5 separate regions of the Homo sapiens genome follow, and regions 1, 2, 3 and 4 are each reported to be linked to region 5. Evidence: microRNA targets listed by miRTarBase, many of them from high-throughput screens and not tested one by one. Region 5 holds a microRNA gene; each other region holds the end of a gene's coding sequence.

Region 1 (4,232 bases), not on the chromosome of region 5:
TGTTGAAAAAATTTTAATGGCCAATAACTTACTGCATTCAAAGTGAGGAGTTTTATAAGGGTTTTATTTTTAATAAGATGAATAGTTTAAGCTTCGTGTCTAGCCCTGCACCCTCTTAGCCTAACAGCACACCTCGAGCGCTGTGCCCTGGGCTGCTGACGTGGCGGCAGGCCGCTAGCAGCAGTCGGCCACCTCCTGAGGCGGGCAGCACAGGCCTGCTGTGGACACTCTAGGTCTGGCCTTGTATTTTGTGGTCTCAGAAGCCTTTGTGGGGACTTCTAGTGTAGGGAAGGCAGTCTCTCTGGGAGCTCCTGCAATGCCAAACTCTTAGCCCAGGTTCACTCCTCCGATCCAAGCCTGGCAGGGGTGGGGCATCATGGTGTGTAGGTATCAGGCAGGACTTGTAAGCCATCCCGTCAAGTCAAATTCTGGCTTAATGTGTCTTTAGGTAGATGACCTCTGAGCCACAGTTTCCTATTCTATGAATTGGGGTTTAGTAAATCTCTCGGGACTGAGAGCCAATGAGGCCATGTGTGCACACAAAATGCTGGGCACAAATGAGGGGCTCAGCGGGGCTGAGAAGTACATCCCATCCAGTGCCGACATCCGCTTGCATGGTGCCCTGGTAACCTTGCCTCTGCCCTCCCCAGGCCACCTCACCGATCAGCACCTGGCCGAGTTCCTGCGGCGCTGCAAGGGCAGCCTCCGCCCCAACGGCATCATCGTCATCAAAGACAACATGGCCCAGGAGGGCGTGATTCTGGACGACGTGGACAGCAGCGTGTGCCGGGACCTTGACGTGGTCCGCAGGATCATCTGCAGTGCAGGCCTCAGCCTCCTGGCCGAGGAGAGGCAGGAGAACCTCCCCGATGAGATCTACCATGTCTATAGCTTTGCCCTGAGATGAGCCGGGGCTGGCAGGAGAAACTGAGGAACCACAGTCCTGGTGGGGGGAGCTGGCAGCTGGGCAAGATCCAGGCGCCACGCTGGCGGTTCGTGAGTGTCGAGGCACCACTAAATATAGCTGTCTGCCGTCCACTCATTATGCGGGCTCTTCTTCAAAAGGCAAGGTGGGACCCGGCGGGGAGGGTGCTGCTGAACCAGCGGTGAGGCAGGAGCCCAGACCCTGCTCTCCTGCGAGATGGGATTGGGTGGAAGGGGCTCCAGGGCTCCTGGTGCTCCCCATGTGGGAATAGGGTGGCCACATCAGTAACCGATTCCCTGGGCCTCCAGCCCGGCCTTCCAGCCATGGGCCTGGCTGCCTGAAGAGGAAGGAAACCACCCCCAACTTGGTTGCTGGGGACTTGAAGACTTCAGTGTGATCTTTACCTAGGGGAGGGACAGAGCTGGGCTGGTGGAGCCCATGGGTGCTGCCTGATGGTGCTGTGGGGTGGGTGCTCATGTGCCAAGTCCTGCTTGGCAGTGGAGACCTGGGGCCCTTAAAGTGTTACAACAGCCTGCAGCAAGGGAAGTTCCCCGTAGCCTCAGTCTTCTCTGGGCTTGAGGCTGCTCCTTGGCAGGCATTTAAAGTAAAAAATAAAATGGGGCTGGGCGCGGTGGCTCACGCCTGTAATCCCAGCACTTTGGGAGGCCGAGGCGGGCAGATCACGAGGTCAGGAGATTGAGACCATCCTGGCTAACAGGTGAAACCCCGTCTCTACTTAAAATACAAAAAAAAAAAAAATTAGCCAGGCGTGATGGCGGGCGCCTGTAGTCCCAGCTACTCAGGAGGCTGAGGCAGGAGAATGGGGTGAGCCCGGGAGGCAGAGCTTGCAGTGAGGTGAGATTGCGCCACTGCACTCCAGCCTAGGTGACAGAGCGAGACTCTGTCTCAAAATAAAACTAAAATAAAATGGGGGCCGGGCACAGTGGCTCATGTCTGTAATCCCAGCACTTTGAAAGGCCGAGGCAGGCGAATCACCTGAGGTCAGGAGTTTGAGACCAGCCTGACCAACATGGCGAAACCCCGTCTCTACTAAAAATACAAAAATCAGCCAGGCATGGTGGTGGGCACCTATAATGCCAGCTACTCAGGAGGCTGAGGCAGGAGAACTGCTTGAACCTGGGAGGCAGAGGTCGCAGTGAGCCGAGATTGCACCATTGCACTCCAGCCTGGGTGACAGAGTGTCTCGAAAAAAAAAAATAATAAAATGGGACCTCCACACTGTGGAGGCCCTTGCCAGTCTAGAGTGGTGCTTCTTTGCAGGGACTTGGAAACAACCCCCCAAACACAGCATCCCCTCACACCTGCCACCCACTTCCTTACCGGCTGCTGTGGGAGCCTCTATCCTGAACTATGGAGGGGCGGGGTGGAAATTTTATATAAGGACCTTGTTAAGGCCAAGAAAGTCAGTTTAATCTTATAATATAAATATATCATTTAGTCACCTCAGCTTATCCCCAGAGGTGTTTACACAATTCCCAATGACCAGTGCAGCTTGGAAGGGACTGAGGCTCGCAAGTGGGTGGCACAGTCGGCTCTTCAGTGGCTCCAAAGTGAGCCCCTCACAACAGGAGACACTTCAGAGAGGTCTGTCCCCAGCCACGCACTCATGATTGCTTTTTAGCAGAAGTCATGGTCGCTGAGGCCCTGGGTTTGGCAAAAGCACAGCTGCCAGCAGAGCACAGTTCTGGTAGGTGGGGCCACGGCTGACCTGGCCCCAGAGCTACAGGAACAGGCAGGGGCCAGCTTGGCTTGCAACACCATGAAACAAGCCTGTGGGGCCCTTAGTGTCTTCTCCCGCAGAGCCCACCAGAAACACTTCTGTGAGTAACAGAACCTGGAAGGAAAAGGGGCAGGGGTGGGGCCTTGGTGGCACCGCACAGGACGTGCCCCAGGCTTCCTCTCCAGCTGCACTGCCACGTGCGGCCAACAAGAGCCCCGCAGCCCTGGGGTGCTGAGGCTTGGTCCTTCCCAGCTTCTGCAAATGCCCTGGCACTGCCCTCCAATTCAGAGGGTATAAACATCAATCCAAGCCCTGTTCCTCTTTCCAACATGGGGGGGACTTGGAGTGCCGCTGGAGGGAAGGGGGCAGTCTCTCTGGAAGAACCAGAGCTGCACCCTTCACCACTGGAGTGATCACAGCTTCAGGCTCTACCTGGCTGGCTTTTCTCATGAAGGATCCCGTCTCATCTCCCAGATCAAAAAGACCCTCTTCTAATGCTGTCCCAGCATCTACCAACAGGCTGACCTGAGCTGCCCGTGTCCCCCGTTCCTGTAGCCTGAGACCTATCAGATGTCATCTTCCACGGAGCCACTGTGCTCGCTAAGGAGGTACCACTTCAGCCTGTCGGGCAGAGGCAGGGCTTTGACCTTCACATCCACAGGCCACGGCTGAAGGTAGAGCCGGATGGCCACACGGCACAGGTGCTTGAGGGGCGGGGGATAGCTCTCCAGCTGCCTCAAGGAGAAGTGGAGGGCCTGGATCTTTTCCGCCAGGCTGCCCACAGGGTGGATATCGAAGTTTTCGGGCAGCTGGAGTTTCTGAGAGTTGGTCACCATGAGATCCAGGACAGTCTCAGCTTTGCGCAGGAGGTCCGCATGGCTCTCGTCTTCCGTGCAGCCTGGGTGGGAACAGAGCCTCTCAAAGATGATGTGAAAGCCAGACCAGCAGGACGCACCGTGCAGGGAGCAGTTGTAGGCGGCTCCGGACTCCAGGAGGAAGCGCAGGAGAGGGAAGTGCAGTTTAAAGCTCTTCAGGCAGATGTGGGTGAGGGACTCGTGGGCTGGGCACTCGCTGGGGTCGGCCCCGTGTGCCAGCAGCAGCCGTGTGACTTGGAAGCAGAAGCGGTTGATCATCTGGGCCTCCTCTTTGTCCCCTCCCACGGTCTCACCAAGCAGGAAGATGATGCAGGTGAACACTGTGTCCCCATCTTTGGTGGTGGCCTTGACGTCTGCCCCTAGAAGAGCCATAGAACAAGAGATGCTGGGAGAAGGCCTTCAACCCTGGCAAAGCAACAGCACACATCGAAGGGGCGGGTGAGAGGACGAGGCCTAGGAGCGCGCCAGCCTCACCTCCTTCCAGTAAGAGACGAATGTTCTCAGTATTGTGGATCTGCACCCCGTCGCTGCTGGCCAGAGCATGGAGCAGAGCAGTTTTTCCTAGGGAGGGAGGGAGAGCAAGGAGGAGCAGGAGGCCAGGAAGCCCAGGTCAGGGCAACCCAGAGGAGGTGGCAGAAATCCAGACACTCAGAGGATCAGAAGATGAACTTTCAGAGACAACTCTCAGCTC
Region 2 (4,232 bases), not on the chromosome of region 5:
ACAATAAAAATGAGAGTAAAAATCAGTTACTCTTTCTAGACATTAATTAGCACATTTACGTTAAGACTCTAAGTAGTATAAAATGTAAATTGCTGCTACCCTACTAAGTTACTGTCAGTAAATACTGTGTGCAGTAAATGTTGAGTATGGATTAATTGAAGGATACCTCTACAATTATTTCCTTTAGTCAAGGTTGTAGCTAAGAATTGGGCTTCTGACATACATTCTTTTTAATCTTTTTCGTATTGGGTTTTATAGCACTAAACCTAATTTCTAACATATTTTTACACCTGAAATCTACATTCTAATATAAAGGTTTTTTTTTTATAACTTTCTTAAAAATTTCAGGCCATCAGCAAGCAGTTTATTGTCCCATGTTTTCTTCAAACAGGTGAGCTGATCTATCATCCGTTGTCTCGATGTTTTTAATTACTATTAAAAAGTCACTTTATTTTGTTGGCTTGATGAGATATTTTGGTTACCAAGGTTCTTACTAATAACTTTGTTACAAAATAAAGTTAAAAACAAGAAAACTTTTGGTAGTTCAATTATAGACTTTCTAAAATACTTTCATTCTTCAAAACAGAATGAGTAAAAATAAAATGGACTATCATCACATTACTGATGCTTGGTGTATATTTTGATTAATTTAGAGACATTTTCTATGTTGGCTAGAAATGATGAAAGGGCAAAGTAACTCTGATAAGAAGTCAGTTTCTTTGGCTCTTCTTCCTGTTTTCAGATGACCAGAATCAAAGGCAGTTTTAGGGGAAATACCTGAAAACAATTTTAAACACATTTAACATAAATTCTTTAAAAGTTATTTATTGCTAACAAAACTGATATATTGAAATGATATATCAACAGCCTTATTTTGAGTTTCTTTAACAGATGAAAGAAGAAAGCCAGGATTCAATACTTTCACTGTTGCCTCCTGCTTATAACAAGCCATCAATATCATTGCCTCCAGTGTTACCTTGGACTGAGCCAGAATGTGATTTTCCTGATGAAAAAGACTCATACTGGGAATTCTAGGGCTGCCAAATCATTTTATGTCCTATATACTTGACACTTTCTCCTTGCTGCTTTTTCTTCTGTATTTCTAGGTACAAATACCAGAATTATACTTGAAAATACAGTTGGTGCACTGGAGAATCTATTATTTAAAACCACTCTGTTCAAAGGGGCACCAGTTTGTAGTCCCTCTGTTTCGCACAGAGTACTATGACAAGGAAACATCAGAATTACTAATCTAGCTAGTGTCATTTATTCTGGAATTTTTTTCTAAGCTGTGACTAACTCTTTTTATCTCTCAATATAATTTTTGAGCCAGTTAATTTTTTTCAGTATTTTGCTGTCCCTTGGGAATGGGCCCTCAGAGGACAGTGCTTCCAAGTACATCTTCTCCCAGATTCTCTGGCCTTTTTAATGAGCTATTGTTAAACCAACAGGCTAGTTTATCTTACATCAGACCCTTTTCTGGTAGAGGGAAAATGTTTGTGCTTTCCCTTTTTCTTCTGTTAATACTTATGGTAACACCTAACTGAGCCTCACTCACATTAAATGATTCACTTGAAATATATACAGAAATTGTAATTTGCTTTTTTTTAAACAAGGGGGCTAAAGTAACACTTTCCTACTTATGTAAATTATAGATCCTAAATTCACGCACCCCGTGGGAGCTCAATAAAGATTTACTGAATTGAGTTTATGCTTTTATTTATTTTCCTTGCATAGTCTGACAGAGCTAATATACAGATTCTGATTTGTTTTGCCAAGAAAAGCCCTTTCTCAAGCAGATTTATTTACATAATCTATAATCAACTGAGTATTTGATTAAATGGAGGCAGAAGGCATTCTGGCCTTTTGTATGGTTATTGCTCCTGTAGGAGATACAACATATGAGGGCATAGAGGTCTTAATTAATTAATATTTCCTAATTAGAAAAGAGACTCTGCCATGTCTCAAAAAGAATACATAGTTTGGAGGTGTGGTAAACTGGGACCTACTTCAGTTGATTTTCTTAATTTATACAATCTTATTTATATTACATTAAAAGTTATTTTAAAATGATTACCTCAGGACTAAAAAATTAAAAAGACAAATAATATACAAATCCATAGGCGATTTCAAGCACAATTATCTTCATGTTTATTGACTGGACCCCCTCAAGAATGAAGGTTTGGGTTACTCCATCCGTTAAGCCACCAAGACCCACCAAAGTGAAAGAATTTAAAATGGACAGTGGAAAAGGGAGAAGATGAAGACCGCTGAGGCCCTAAGAGCAACTCTAGTGGTAAGGGCTATAGTTCATCCTACTAACCTCCCCCTTCTAAATTTCCCTTCCGTAAGAGAGGCCCACAGAGACCTTAGAGGTCTTTCAAATCTGTGTGGAGGTTCTCCTGAATGTGTGTAGTTTAAAAATTGGACCATAGAGGGCCCGAAATGGTGCTTCTCAGATCTTCTACTATGGGGTGTGTTAGGGTACTCCAGAGAAATAGCCAACAGAATCGATGTGTGTATATAATATATCTATATTTTATATACATACATACATAAACTGATTTATTATAAGGAATTGGTTCATGCGATTGTGGAGGCTGACAAGTCCAAAGATCTGCCAGGTGAGTTAGCAAGCTGGACATCCAGAAGAGCTGATAGTGTAGTTCTCATCCAAAGGTTGTCAGACTCAAGACCCAGGAAGAGTCAGTGTTTCAGTTTGAGTCCAAAGGCAGTAAAAAGCCAATGTCCCAGTTCAAATGCATTCAGGCAGGAGGAATTCTCTTTTACTTGGGGGAAGTTTAGCCTTCCTCTTCTATTCAGGCCTTCAATTGATTGGATGAGGTCCACTCATATTAGAGAGTGCAATCTGCTTCACTTAGTCGACCGATTTAAATGTTAGTCTGATCCAGAAACACCGTGTGATGGTTAATATTAAGTGTCAACTTGATTGGATTGAAGGATGTCTAGATAGCTGATAACACAGTGGTCCCAACCTTTTTGGCACCAGTTTTGTGGTATACAGTTTTACCATGGGGTGGGGGATGGTTTCAGGATGAAACTGTTCCATCTCAGATCAGGCATTAGATTCTCATAAGGAGCAGCACGACCTAGATCACTTGTGTGTGAGTTCACAATAGGGTTGGTGCTCCTATGAGAATTTAATGTGGCCGCTGATCTGACAGGAGGCAGAACTCAGGCGGTAATGCTCACCCACCCTGCTGCTCATCTGCTGTGACGCTGGGTTCCCAACAGGCCACTGACCCGTATGGGTCCACAGCGGGGTTTGGGGACTCCTGTGGTAAAGTATTGTTTCTGGGTGTGTCTATGAGGGTGTTGCCAGAGGAGATTGACGTTTGAGTCAGTGGACTGGGAGAGGAAGACCCACCCTCAATGTAGGTGGGCACCATGCAGTCAGCTGCCAAACGGCTAGATGGCGGCCAGAAGAGGGATAACCTTGCTTGCTGAGCCTTGTGGATTTCATCTTTCTTCCATGCTGGATGCTTCCTTCCACTCCTCCTGCCCTTGGACATCAGACTCTAGGTTCTTTGGCCTTCGGACTCTGGGAGTTGCACAAGGGCCTCCTGGGGACTTTTGTGCCTTCAGCCACAGACCGAGGGTTGCACTGTTGGCTTTGCTGCTTTTGAGGCTTTTGGAATTGGATGGAGCAACTGCTGGCTTCTTTCTTCCTCAGCTAGCAGATGGCCTACTGCAGGACTTCACCTTGTGATAGTGTGAGCCAATTCTCCCTAGTAAACTCCATTTCATATATTCATTAGTTCTGTCCCTCTGGAGAACCCTAATACACATCCTCACAGAGACACTCAGAATAATGTTATTTTTTGTTTGTTTGAGATGGAGTCTTGCTCCGTCGCCCAGGCTGGAGTGCAGTGGCATGATCTCAGCTCACTGTAACCTCTGCCTCCCGGGTTCAAGTGATTCTCCTGCCTCAGCCTCCCAAGTAGCTGGGATTACAGGCTCCCATCACCATGCCCAGCTAATTTTTGCATTTTTAGTAGAGATGGGGTTTCACCATGTTGGCCAGGCTGGTCTAGAACTCCTGACCTCGGACTCCCAAAGTGCTGGGACTACAGGCATTCAGAATAATGTTTGACCAAGTATCTGGGCACCTGTGGCCCAGTACAGTTGACACACAAAATCAACCATCACCATGGGTATCACCATGAGTGATGACTTCACCCTGTGAGTGCTTTCTTAAATTTTGTGCCTCA
Region 3 (4,232 bases), not on the chromosome of region 5:
GTCTATATGCATCTGTGATTTATTTCTGAGAGTTCGCTGGTGGCATATCAAAGAGTCGGCTCCTATGGTGTCTATCAGTCTGACTCTCGGCCTCCCCTCCCTTGTGATAAAAATCACAGTTTTTAATTAGGGCAATATGAGTGTCCCCAATCTTCACAAGCTGCCACCTTTGGGTTTTAGGTGCTTATGAGAAAGTTTGGGGCATTGCTGATAGCAATCAGAATCAGAAATGTACCTGCTCAGATTATCCATATAAACAATTGAAATAAAAACATTACATTATACATCAGATTAACAGCAACTCCCAGAACAAAGCTTACAGTGTATAAAAATAGCTACGTAAAAAATTTACATAAAAGGCAAACCAAAAAGAAATCCTCAGTGCAGACATTTACGGAAAAAAAATTGAACCAAACACAACATATGACCTATTATCATGGCTGCCAAAACTTGTTCTTATTGTTTGTAATTAAATTTCATTTGTTTTACTTGAGATAATTCTCTGAAAACCTGTGACAGCTTGGTAGAATGAACTGCTTAATACTTGAACCATGAATTGCTGTCAATGTCTTTGTTTATGTCTTAAATACAATCCACGTTCATGCTTCAATTGGTCTATATGATTTTTATCTCTGAAATGAAAAAAAAATAATTTAGATAAGCTTCCAAAGCAATAATTTTTTAACATCAACAGATACTTTGTACTAAAAGTAATTTAGTAAATTACTTTACAGGAGGGCCTTTTATAAAACTCCATTGTCCCCAAGCCCATCTATAATCTCAGGCATTGCTTCATCCATTCTACAAATAGTTTTTGGAATTATTCAGAGTTTTCTTTTTTTGTAAAATTAATACTAATATTACAAGTTTTTTTTCAAGAAAATATTTCATTGCATTTCTCTTTAGGTTAAAAGTACACTCATTTCTTCAAATCACACTATTTCGTGGGATTTGTCTTCAAGTACAGTTTTTCATTGAGAAGTTATACGATTTTGAAGAAAACAGTAGTTAAAATCTATGTTTACAAAGGACTGGGGAAAAGAACCCTAGAGAAGTGGAAAAAACAAACAAAAAAAGTCATGTGGGAATGCTGCATACTTGACCTCCAATGAAAGGTGAGATAGAGAAGCAATCCAGTTCTGATTCCTTTCACCCCATCAGTTTAAAATCCTGGCTTTCAGATTTTAAAAACCAAGTCTTGTTTCAATTATTCTATTGTTCTCCCCTGTGTGCATCCTTTTAAATTCAGTATTTTCTCACGCTCCATCCTTACTATGGGATTAACTTGGATGACCCACTCAAATTGTGACTTGTGGTTTATTTATAATGAACCCGAGGTTTACTGTGGCGGTTGGGGCTTGTCATATCATATCGGTAAGCTATAGTAACAGTTATTCTAAAGGACACATTAATAGTCCAAATGGCTCTTCTATTTGCTTGGTTTAAGGGAACACAAATAAAAAGAAAAACCTCAAATTGCAGGTGGCAATGCCATGGAAACATACCTCTTTTGAGATTGTCTTAAAAATCACACACAGCTATTTTATATGTTAAATATAACAGTCATATGCCTCTACATATGTGCATATAGATACATGGATACATATATACACATACACATACATATACTACCTATAAAAGCATATGCGTATATGTATACACACGTGCACAAGTTTGTTATGCTTTTCATTAAAATGATTTGGGATATTGGCTGTATAAATACACTCACGCTTTTATTAAATATCTAGATTAAAGTTTTTTATTTTTTTATTTTTATATTTTGAGACAGAATCTCATTCTGTCACCCAGATTGGAGTGCAGTGGCACCATCTTGGCTCACTGCAACCCCCACCTCTTGGGTTCAAGTGATTCCCCTGCCTCAGCCACTGGAGTAGCTGGGATTATCGGTGCTTGCCACCAGGACTGGCTAATTTTTGTATTTTTAGTAGAGACGCAGGGTTTCACCACATTGGCCAGGCTGGTCTGGAGCTTCTAGTCTCCAGTGATCCACCCGCCTCAGCCTCCCAAAGTGCTGGGATTACAGGCGTGAGCCATTGCCTATACCTGGCCTAAAATTTTCATATTTTAAAATTATTTTCATAATCATTTATTTAAAACAAATCTAAGGTATTAGAATCTGTTCTTACTGAACCCAAACACCAATTCAAAAAATAAAGCTTCTTTGCACTTAAAGTTTTTGCATTAAAATATAAAATGATAGTTGAATGTTAACATCTCATAGTTGGTTTTTATTATTCAGAAGATAATGATTATTTTGAGGAGGGAGTGGGGGAAACTGGTAAGTTTCCATTCTTCCGAAAACACTTTCTGAGTCACGAAAGTTTCCTTTCGAAAAACTCTCTTCCTGTTTTGAGAGAATGTGGAAAAATAGGAACGCTTTTACACTGTTGGTGGGAGTGTAAATTAGTTCAACCATTGTGGAAGGCAGTGTGGTGATTCCTGAAGGATATAGAACCGGAAATACCATTTGACCCAGCAATCCCATTACTGCGTATATAGCCAAAGAATTATAAATCATTCTACTATAAACACACATCCACATGTATGTTTATTGCAGCACTGTTCACAATAGCAAAGACTTGGAACCAACCCAAAGGCCCATCAGTGATCGACTGGATTAAGAAAATGTGGCACACATACACCATGGAATACTATTCAGCCATAAAAAAGGACGAGTTCATGTCCTTTGTAAGGACATGGATGAAGCTGGAAACCATCATTCTCAGCAAACTAACGCAAGAACAGAAAACTCAACATTGCATGTTTTCACTCATAAGTGGGAGTTGAGCAGTGAGAACACATGGACATAGGGAAGGGACCACCACACAATGGGGCCTGTCAGGGGGTGGGGGGCTAGGGGAGGGACGCATTAGGAGAAATACCTAATGTAGATGATGGGTTGATGCGTGCAAACTACCATGGCACGTTTATACCAGCGTAACATACCTTCACGTTCTGCACATGTATCTGAGAACTTAAAGCATAATAAAAAGAAAAAAAACCCCTCTCTTCCTGTTTTGAAAGCTGTAATTATGGAGCATCTTAACATAAAGGACTTCATCTTTAAGGATGTTTCCTACTTGCTAGGGAATTATTTCTATGAACCTCGTACAGACTACTCACCTGGACAACTAGGACAGTTTCTCTCTTAGGCTTCAGTTTTGTGATTGTTTTCTTCTAACTTTTTGTTTTCTTCCATATTACCGAGGTCCTTGTTTACATGTTTTGATGCAGTCCTGTAAGAGAATTAAATAAACTTCATCATATTGACACATACATGTTCAACTTTTATATTTAATTTTAAGATTTGAATTAATGTGTCTTTGAAAAGCAAATGTTTTACAGCAAACCGCTAGGCAAAAATTTCCATATCTGTGAGCCTTGACTGATAATGGAGCACATTGTACTGAAATTAGCTTGGTGATGGGGTTCCAGTAAATGTATGCTAAGAGAAAAAAAAATCAATTATTTTGAAAACAGACTATACAACACTTTGTGCATCATGTTTTTAGCTAGGTTATTTTTCTCTCCACTTTCTGGGAAGTAACTCATTTGATAGTGTAAATTTTTGTTCTAAGCGAATTTTCTCCAAAAAAATTTTCTTAAGGACATTTCATGAAGGCGCGTTCCCTTCTGGTGTTCCCTATCATGTATCCCAGTTGAGCTAACACCCTATGTCTATCTTTATGAATATTCTGTTTTACTGAATACAACAACAACCAGATTATTGAGACCAAGTTTATGATAGAACATCGACAACAGAAGCTATAGCAACTTTAACGTGGCTGGTTCTCAAATTATGGTCCCCAGACCAGCAGTATCAGCATCCCCTGTGAACTTGCAAGAAATGCAAATTCTCGGGCCCTATACCAGAACTACAGAAACAGAAACAGAAACTGTGGGGATGGGACCTGCGATCTCTGCTAAACAACTCCTCAGGTGATTCCACTGCCTGCCACAGTTTGAAAACCAATGCCTTAGCGGCTACTTTGATTACCCATGCCTAGGCTCTTATTCTTTAAGACATTAAATCAGATTTTCTTAATTACACAATTAAGGGTTTGTGGCTAACTAGGAGAAAGCAGAACAAATGGTAGCTGTATGTCCAAGAGTGCACCCCTTCCACCTTCCCTCCCTCCCTTCCTTCCTTTCCTCCCAGCATCCAGAATAAGAGACAATTGCAGACCATTATATGACCTTGCAGTCTACTT
Region 4 (4,232 bases), not on the chromosome of region 5:
GGAAACTCAGGTTGAGGCCCCTTTGTTGCTTTTGAAAAAGTAGAGGTTAAAGGAAAATGCCCACCTTAAAAAATAAAAACAAAACAAAACACTCAAGTGGCCAACTGCAGGACGAGGGCCTACTTAATGTTCAGTTCTGAATCAACACTGAAATTATTTTCATCTTAGGTTGACAGGGAAAATCTAGGTCCTGCCTAAAAATGTGATGCATTTTGAATCACTAAACTAGCATTAGGTGTGTGACTACAGAAAGGAGCCAGCAGTTGCTATCAGCACCTTGAAGAATTCAAGATCTCTGCTTAGCAAAAGAAAACCAAAATACAGACGACCTGGGTGCTCGGCCCACCATTCAAAGCCAACAGGGGATGGAAAGCTATGTTTTCAGGATGTTACAGAAGCACACATATATATTTTCCCACTGCATGAAATTAAATTAGACTGCGTACTCTTATTTTTCCCACTTGCGTTATGATGGTATCAATAAGAGTGCAGTTTAGATTTTTTTAGTTTTTTAAAATCAACTTTCACATAAAAATATGCATGTGCCTATATTTATACACATCTGTATTTACGTACAATTGTCAAAGTCTTAAAGGCTGGGGTTTATATCTCTGCCCATCCCCTCCCAACCCCAAAATCCCTAATAGAAAGGTTTTCATCTTGCTTAAAAAGACAAAACAACTAAAAAGACTATAGCTCTTAGCAGTCAGGCTGGTGGATCAGTGAATGAGAGAGGACAAATTGGCGAATCAGGGCTGCCGATCAGCCGCACGGGGCGCGGAGGATGGGGTTGGGGGGATTAGCTGCCTTGGGCTGAGTTTGCTGGTCCTGAAGATTACAGTTTTGGTTAGAGAGAGAAGCCTGTCTAGCATGCTGACTCGGTCTACCTCAAGCTTTGAAAGTAATGTCTAACCCTGCTGCCAGTTTATCACAAGTGCATTAAAAATATAGAGATCTATCAAGTTCCACATTTATATGCAATCAAACTGAAAAGGACCAGACAAACAGTGCAAAGGTCAAATAATTACTGTTTTATATTGGGACAGTACATTTCAGATTTCAACCAAAAGACAAAAATGCAGTTTAACTCAAAGGCACAACAATTGAAACACAGAAAATAATGGCATCTCTTGGATGCCTTATTTCTAAATTAAACAAAGAAGTACACAAATTTTGTTCCCTTCCCTCCCCCAGTGCAAGCCCACAAGCTTTTTCCAAAGTCTTGAGCTTTTGATGCTGTCCCGCATTGTGGACTTGTGAGGCGCTTGGATGTAGCAATGAAACAAAATGCTTGAGAGGTCTAGTGAATGGCATTCAAAAGGGACCTCAAAGTGCAGACATATCTTTTTCAAATATGTTACAGGCTGAACTGGCTCTTTGAACACTATCACTCTGCTTAAATCCAGGAAGCAGGCTTTAAAAATGCAAAAGGCATACAAGTTGTATTTCAGTGCAAATCTTTAGCTGGTTATTGGAAAAGATTCCAAAAATTAAAAAAAAAAAAAAAAAATCCTTTGTGTCACCTGCCCCTCCCCCCACCCAAAGCCAAAATGAAGAAAAGACAGAACAAAACAAAAACAGAAGAATTACAGGTGACTTTGGAATCATTTAGGAATCCACTACTTCCAATCAGAATGTTTAGAAAAATACATTAAAGAATCATTTTTTAAAAAACACAAAAGTAATCTTGCTTTCTGAGACTGCTCTTCGGGTATAGAATGAGCTTCCGTGTGGAGTGCGTTTGAACTTTGACCTTAGCTGTGTGCGAGGTGCAGGCGCTGGGGGAGCTTCAGGCTGTGGTGTGCGAGTGACCGCAGGGGAGCGTGGGGTGGCTGCCCGCTGCCGAGTCAGCCGTTGAGCCCTTAGGTCGCAGTGCGTCCGTGGATTTTAGTAATGTTCTCATCACTTTGTGACACACTCTGCTTCAGCATCACAGATTTTACAAATGGTTCAAATTCAATGAAAAAGATTCGCCAGAGGCTGAAAACATCAAGACCTCAAAAATATGAATGCAAAAATATTCAGGGGAATGAACTAATTTTGTAGATACCTACATACAAAGTTTCTAGAACATCTATAAAACCACAAAGTCATAAGAATTTGTTTTCCATTACATTAGTTTATATAAAATGAATAAATAGTATTTATAGATTTAATGTGTCTTATGTACATATACATGTGCTCTGTTTTAGCTTAAATAAAAATGCTACAAAGTCGGAGACCACTTAAGGGAGAAATCATAACCAAAAAGAAAAATCAGCCTTTTAAACTATCAACCCAAAAGCCTCCATAAAGAAGTTTCTGGGTGTGTCCAAAAATAATCAATAAGGAGAGGAGTTCTAGTAACAGTGTACCATCCTCTCCTGTTCACCTGCAACAGAGAGTAGAAATGTGGACTTTTTCTTTCACTGATAATGGCTACTAGCTCTGCTAGTGCCACAGCTCAGTTATTGCTGAAAGTTCAATAGGAAAATAGATTATAATTGGACCAAATGTCACTATTTTGGGGGGGGAAAAAAGGATAATCACTGTGTTAAGTGGGAAATGGAGATCTCATTTATCTCTGAGGTAGGAAAAAAAAATGTTCCAGAGACAAGTAGCATTAACAAAGTTGGAGGGGAGAATGTGCCTCGAGATAGCAGAACACAGCGAGGTCCCAAGAACATCGCACAAAAATAGATTGTACCGTTTTGTTTGTGAGAACAAACAATTTGGAACTTTGATGAGCTGTGCAACCCCAGAGACACACTATCAAGGTGTCCATTTTAAAGTGAGAAATACTGCTCCCATCCACACGCGGCGCGTCGGGGGAATGAGCATGCGCGGTGTGAAGGGCGTGTTTTCTAGAGGTATTCCTGACTTCCTCACTGGTGGTGAGGTCCATGGTTAAGTGCTCTTAAATGCTGCTTTCAAAGCTTACTTTGGAGTTCTGAGATCAGGATCTCAATTTCAAAAGTTTGTTTCCTTCAGTTTCCTAAGTACAAGACACACTTGGACATTCCTCCTAGGCAAGTAACACAGTAAGCCAGAAAACTGGAAGAAAGGTCTGGGAGAGGACACGAGGAGAGCAAAGAGGGGGATTGCTGAGATGTGGACATTGCTTATTCGGTCTAAGAATTCTTGGATGCTTCAAATTGATTGGAATGTATAGTCTCTCAGAGACAAATTTTTATGGCGAGAAAAAGAGAAGCTAGTGGATGCAATCAGAAACCCACAATCCTAAGCACCTCCTTGAAAACAGTTACAAAGCTGATTTTGGTCAAGGTGGGACACTGAAGTTTACGTGCAAGGGAGTTGTGGGCAGGTCCAATACGTTACCTAATCAGAACCAACAGGGAGAACCTTCAAGGAGACAGCCGCAGTGCCCACTCTCTTAGAGACCAAGACACGCCTTGTGACTGTCCTGCAGCTTTATTCTCTTGATGCTGGTGCTGGAATAGCCCTCATCACTGCCGAGGCTCTGCATGCTGCCCCGCTCGTCAGAGTCGCTCACACTGCTGCTGCTCCAGTCCAGATCACCTGTGAGATAGTCCGTGCTCTCCACGTCAACGTCGATTTCTTCTGCAGGGAGGACAAGAGAGAAGGACATTGATGAAAGCGCTCTGCAGAAAGCTCAGGCGTGGTGGCTCATGCTTGTAATCCCAGCACTTTGGGAGGCAAAGGCGGGTGGATCACTTGAGGTTAGGAGTTTGAGACCAGCTGGGCCAACACAGTGAAACCCTGTTTCTACTAATACAAAAATTTGGCTGGGTGTGGTGGCTCACGCCTGTAATCCCAGCACTTTGGGAGGCCAAGGTGGGTGAATTACTTGAGGTCAGGAGTTCGAGACCAGCCTGGCCAATATGGTGAAACCTCATCTCTACAAAAATAGGAAAATTTGCCAGGCATTGTGGTGTGTGCCTGTAATCCCAGCTGCTTGGGAGGCTTAGGCAGGGGAATCGCTTGAACCCGGGAGGCGGAGGTTGCAGTGAGCCAAGATCACACCACTGCACTCCAGCCTGGGTGACAGAGCAAGATTCCGTCTCAAAACAAAACAAAACAAACTAGGCTGAAAACTGACACCAATCAAACTCTTCTGGGGTTGTCACCTAAGTGTTAGCAGGGAGAAGGAACCTGTCACTGGAGGTCACACTGTTCGACTTCTCTACATCATACCCAGTGTCTTAGTTCTTCTTACACTCTGCCTCCTGTCCGCAGTACTGAACCCCTGCTCTGGGGTTGGGGAGCACAAG
Region 5 (3,000 bases):
TTGTGAGGCCAAAGCTGGGTTTGACCACTAAGGACGGTCTGACTGCAGACAGGGTTATAGTGAAGATTAAATATCTAAGAAACAATTCCTCACACATATCCCATAACTAAATTAATGTTTTTTGTTTGGGAATGGTGAGCCTCTCTCTCTGACTCAGTTTCTTAATCTGTAGGGAGGAAAAGCCTTTGGCCTTGCTGATCCACCTCTGACCATCTGCTGGGGCAAGGTGTGGTCAGCTCAGTTTTCAATTTTCTGGATGTGGATTTTGCCACTTAATACTCAATCCGCAGGCAGATTAGCCATCTCCCTAGTGGCCGCTGCTTATTTGAATTTCATAAAAACAAAAAACTTTCAGTTCCAAATAAACAAACAGAAAATCTATTTTTTGGGATGGGGTCTCACTCTATAACCCAGATTGGAGTGCAGTAGCTCGATCATGGCTCACTGCAGCCTCAACCTCTCGGGCTCAGGCAATCCTCCCACTTCAGCCTCCCGAGTAGGTGGGACTACAGGCACACACCACCACGCCCGGCTAATTTTCGTTTTTTTGTTTTTTGTTTTTGTTTTGTTTTGTTTTTTGTAGAGATGGGGTGTGCCATGTTGCCCAGGCTGGTCTGGCACTCCTGGGCTCAAGCAGTCCACCCGCCTCGGCCTCCCAAAGTACTGGGATTACAGGCATCAGCCACTGCGCCTGGCCTTACAACACATTTCTTTTCTTTTTCTTTTCTTTTTTTTTTTTTTTTTGAGACAGAGTTTCGCTCTTGTTGCCCAGGCTGGAGTGCAATGGTGTGATCTCGGCTCACTGCAACCTCTGCCTCCCAGGTTCAAGCAATTCTCCTGCCTCAGCCTCTCGAGTAGCTGGGATTACAGGCGCCCACCACCATGCCTGGCTAATTCTTTGTATTTTTAGTAGAGACAGGGTTTCACCATGTTGTCCAGGCTGGTTTCGAACTCCTGACCTCAAGTGATCTGCCCGCCTTGGCCTCCCAAAGTGCTGGGATTACAGGCATGAGCCATCACACCTGGCCTTATAATGCATTTCATAGCTAATGCAGATGCTATAGCTCCCCTACAATTAATTGTGTTGACAGCAGAAATTTATTTTTGGATTATTTTAGTTTGGTTCGCTCAGGCCATGTTTGCTAGGATAGATAACAGCTAATTGAATGGGGGTACAGTGAAAACCACCTTGAGCTTCATGTCAAAAAACCCGAGTTTGCCTGTGAAACCTGTGAAATGGGAGAAGTGAAAAAATTAAATAAGTAAATAAATAAAATTTGAGTTTGGATCTGTTAGGATATTAATACTTGTGACCTCAGGCAACTCACTTAGCTTCTCTACCCCTCATTTTCTTCATCTACGAAATTAAAGAGTTGGATTATACAGTTTCTAAAATCCCATCTGGTTCTAAATCCTTAGACTCCTTAGACTAAATCGTTAGTGTTTACCAAGCTGTAGAACAAAAGTGGAGGTTTAGAGACAAACCCCAAAGAACAAAAGAACTTGTGTGGGGGTTTGGGGACTAAGACTCCTGGGTCCCAGGCTCAACACTCCACTGACCCATTAGGCAGAACCTTCCCATGCCCAGGTCCAACTGGCCAGTAGCAGGATGATAAGGAAACATTTCAGGGAACATGAGTAGAAATAGAGGAGACCCCTCATTTCAGGGAGCAGCACCTTGACAAGGCAGGAGGATGAGAAGGACCTCTGGAGGGGTCTAAGCTGAGCTGCCCTGAGTCACAGAGATCACAGTGGAGTTTCTCCTGAGACAGGAGTGTCAGCTGAGTGGGAACTGTGTCCCTCATGGGTGGGGTCAGAGGTTACCTTGGCCAGCAGCCGGCGCCCGTCATTATCTAGGATGAAAACAGCCTTGATGGTGTAGAGGGAAGGTTCCTGCAACTGACACCGGAGAGGAGAGTTCCGTTTGGCCCCTGACTCGAGGTGGACACCCTGTGTCTATGGGATCTGCTGGCCCTAGGATACATCCTCAGGCCCCAGCAACCCCAGTCCTCAAGGTCCACAGCTGGTTCTGCCCAGCCCTGTGCCACATGGGCCAACCCAGGTGCCCACTCCACTCCCAGGCAGATGTTCCACTGCAGGCCCCGAGTGGGCGCTGTGCCCGTTGGGTGCAGAAGGTCCTTCCGGGCCCAAGTTCTGTCATGCACTGACTGCTCCAGAGCCCGAGTCGGAGTGTATCACAGAACCTGGGCCGGGGGGGACAGCGGGCCGAGCCTCCTTCTTCCAGCTGATCCCTGGCCGGGCTGGACCTGCGCTATCAGCGCGCCCCCAGGCCCTGGCCCGGGTAGACTCCAGAAGCATGCCCATCACCCACCGGTGATGGGAGCCGAGTCTGGGACGGACAGGCCACTCCTTACCCTCCCCGCGGAATCGCAACTCACCCGCCACCCCCACTCCAAACGGACCCAGAACTTCAGCCCCGCGCCGACGGACTCAGGACAGGCCTCCTCTCCGGTCGGCGCTGGGACGAACTTTTCCTCCCGGGTCCTGGGGCCAGTCAGGGGTGACACAAAGTTCCCAGCCGCCGGGCGCGCGAGTTCTGAGTTGGCTGCTCCCCCTAACCCTGCTCTGTCCCTGCCCAGCTCCCGCCGCCCGGGATCCCCGCGCCCGCCCGCTCCGTACCCGCAGCCCCGAGGGCTCCCCGGCTCGAGCAGGCGGCGCCGGGCCCCCGGCCTGGGCCGCCGCGGCCCCCTCCCCCGGGTGCGGACGTGGCCAGGCCTCGGGCCGCTGCATTCCGCTCGCCGCCTCGCACTGACAGCGCCGCCCGCCGCCTGCCCGCCGCCGCCGCCCCGCCTCCGCGCCGCCCCGCGGCCCCCTCTCGCGCGTGGCCTCCCTTTCCTCGGGGCCCCGTCCTCTTGCTCGTTCTCCCCCATCTCCCCTCCCGCCCTCACCCCACCTCTCCTTCCCCCACTTCTCCTCTCCCTCTCTCCTCCTTGGCTCCTTCCCGAGTCCCTTACATCCCCGAACTCTGCATCCTCAGGG

Evidence for each region. The annotated mature microRNA hsa-miR-152-3p reads UCAGUGCAUGACAGAACUUGG and lies in region 5 at 2,148-2,168, opposite strand. An mRNA with a match to its seed (bases 2 to 7 or 8) in the 3' UTR can be bound and repressed. Matches are read on the target gene's strand: a 7mer-m8 pairs with bases 2 to 8, a 7mer-A1 pairs with bases 2 to 7 and ends in A, and an 8mer does both.
Region 1: the mRNA of ASB6 is a reported target of hsa-miR-152-3p. Seed matches in the 3' UTR shown: 7mer-m8 at 2,430-2,436 and 7mer-m8 at 820-826.
Region 2: miRTarBase lists STRADB as a target of hsa-miR-152-3p. Seed matches in the 3' UTR shown: 7mer-m8 at 1,144-1,150.
Region 3: the mRNA of ALCAM is a reported target of hsa-miR-152-3p. Seed matches in the 3' UTR shown: 8mer at 379-386.
Region 4: the mRNA of MXD1 is a reported target of hsa-miR-152-3p. Seed matches in the 3' UTR shown: 8mer at 1,448-1,455, 7mer-m8 at 1,192-1,198 and 7mer-m8 at 1,006-1,012.

Annotation. Positions count from the first base shown.
Region 1 is chr9:129,634,558-129,638,789 of GRCh38, forward strand. It overlaps ASB6 (ankyrin repeat and SOCS box containing 6), which reads right to left. Exons shown (of 6, transcript NM_017873.4): 5 at 4,016-4,102; 6 at 48-3,900. The coding sequence ends at 3,233. It overlaps NTMT1 (N-terminal Xaa-Pro-Lys N-methyltransferase 1), which reads left to right. Exons shown (of 4, transcript NM_014064.4): 4 at 651-1,578. The coding sequence ends at 907. Among named protein-coding and RNA genes, the nearest start is that of ASB6, 5.5 kb to the right of the region's middle.
Region 2 is chr2:201,479,141-201,483,372 of GRCh38, forward strand. It overlaps STRADB (STE20 related adaptor beta), which reads left to right. Exons shown (of 12, transcript NM_018571.6): 11 at 349-391; 12 at 892-1,706. The coding sequence ends at 1,035. Among named protein-coding and RNA genes, the nearest start is that of STRADB, 30 kb to the left of the region's middle.
Region 3 is chr3:105,570,877-105,575,108 of GRCh38, reverse strand. It overlaps ALCAM (activated leukocyte cell adhesion molecule), which reads right to left. Exons shown (of 16, transcript NM_001627.4): 15 at 3,145-3,257; 16 at 1-632. The coding sequence ends at 3,170. Among named protein-coding and RNA genes, the nearest start is that of ALCAM, 210 kb to the right of the region's middle.
Region 4 is chr2:69,937,426-69,941,657 of GRCh38, reverse strand. It overlaps MXD1 (MAX dimerization protein 1), which reads right to left. Exons shown (of 6, transcript NM_002357.4): 6 at 1-3,561. The coding sequence ends at 3,374. It also overlaps a transcript of ASPRV1 not described here. Among named protein-coding and RNA genes, the nearest start is that of ASPRV1, 22 kb to the left of the region's middle. RefSeq lists an enhancer at 3,814-4,232.
Region 5 is chr17:48,035,027-48,038,026 of GRCh38, forward strand. MIR152 (microRNA 152) reads right to left here and starts at 2,221; the gene lies at 2,135-2,221. It overlaps COPZ2 (coat protein complex I subunit zeta 2), which reads right to left and starts at 2,771. Exons shown (of 9, transcript NM_016429.4): 1 at 2,641-2,771; 2 at 1,825-1,899. The coding sequence starts at 2,751.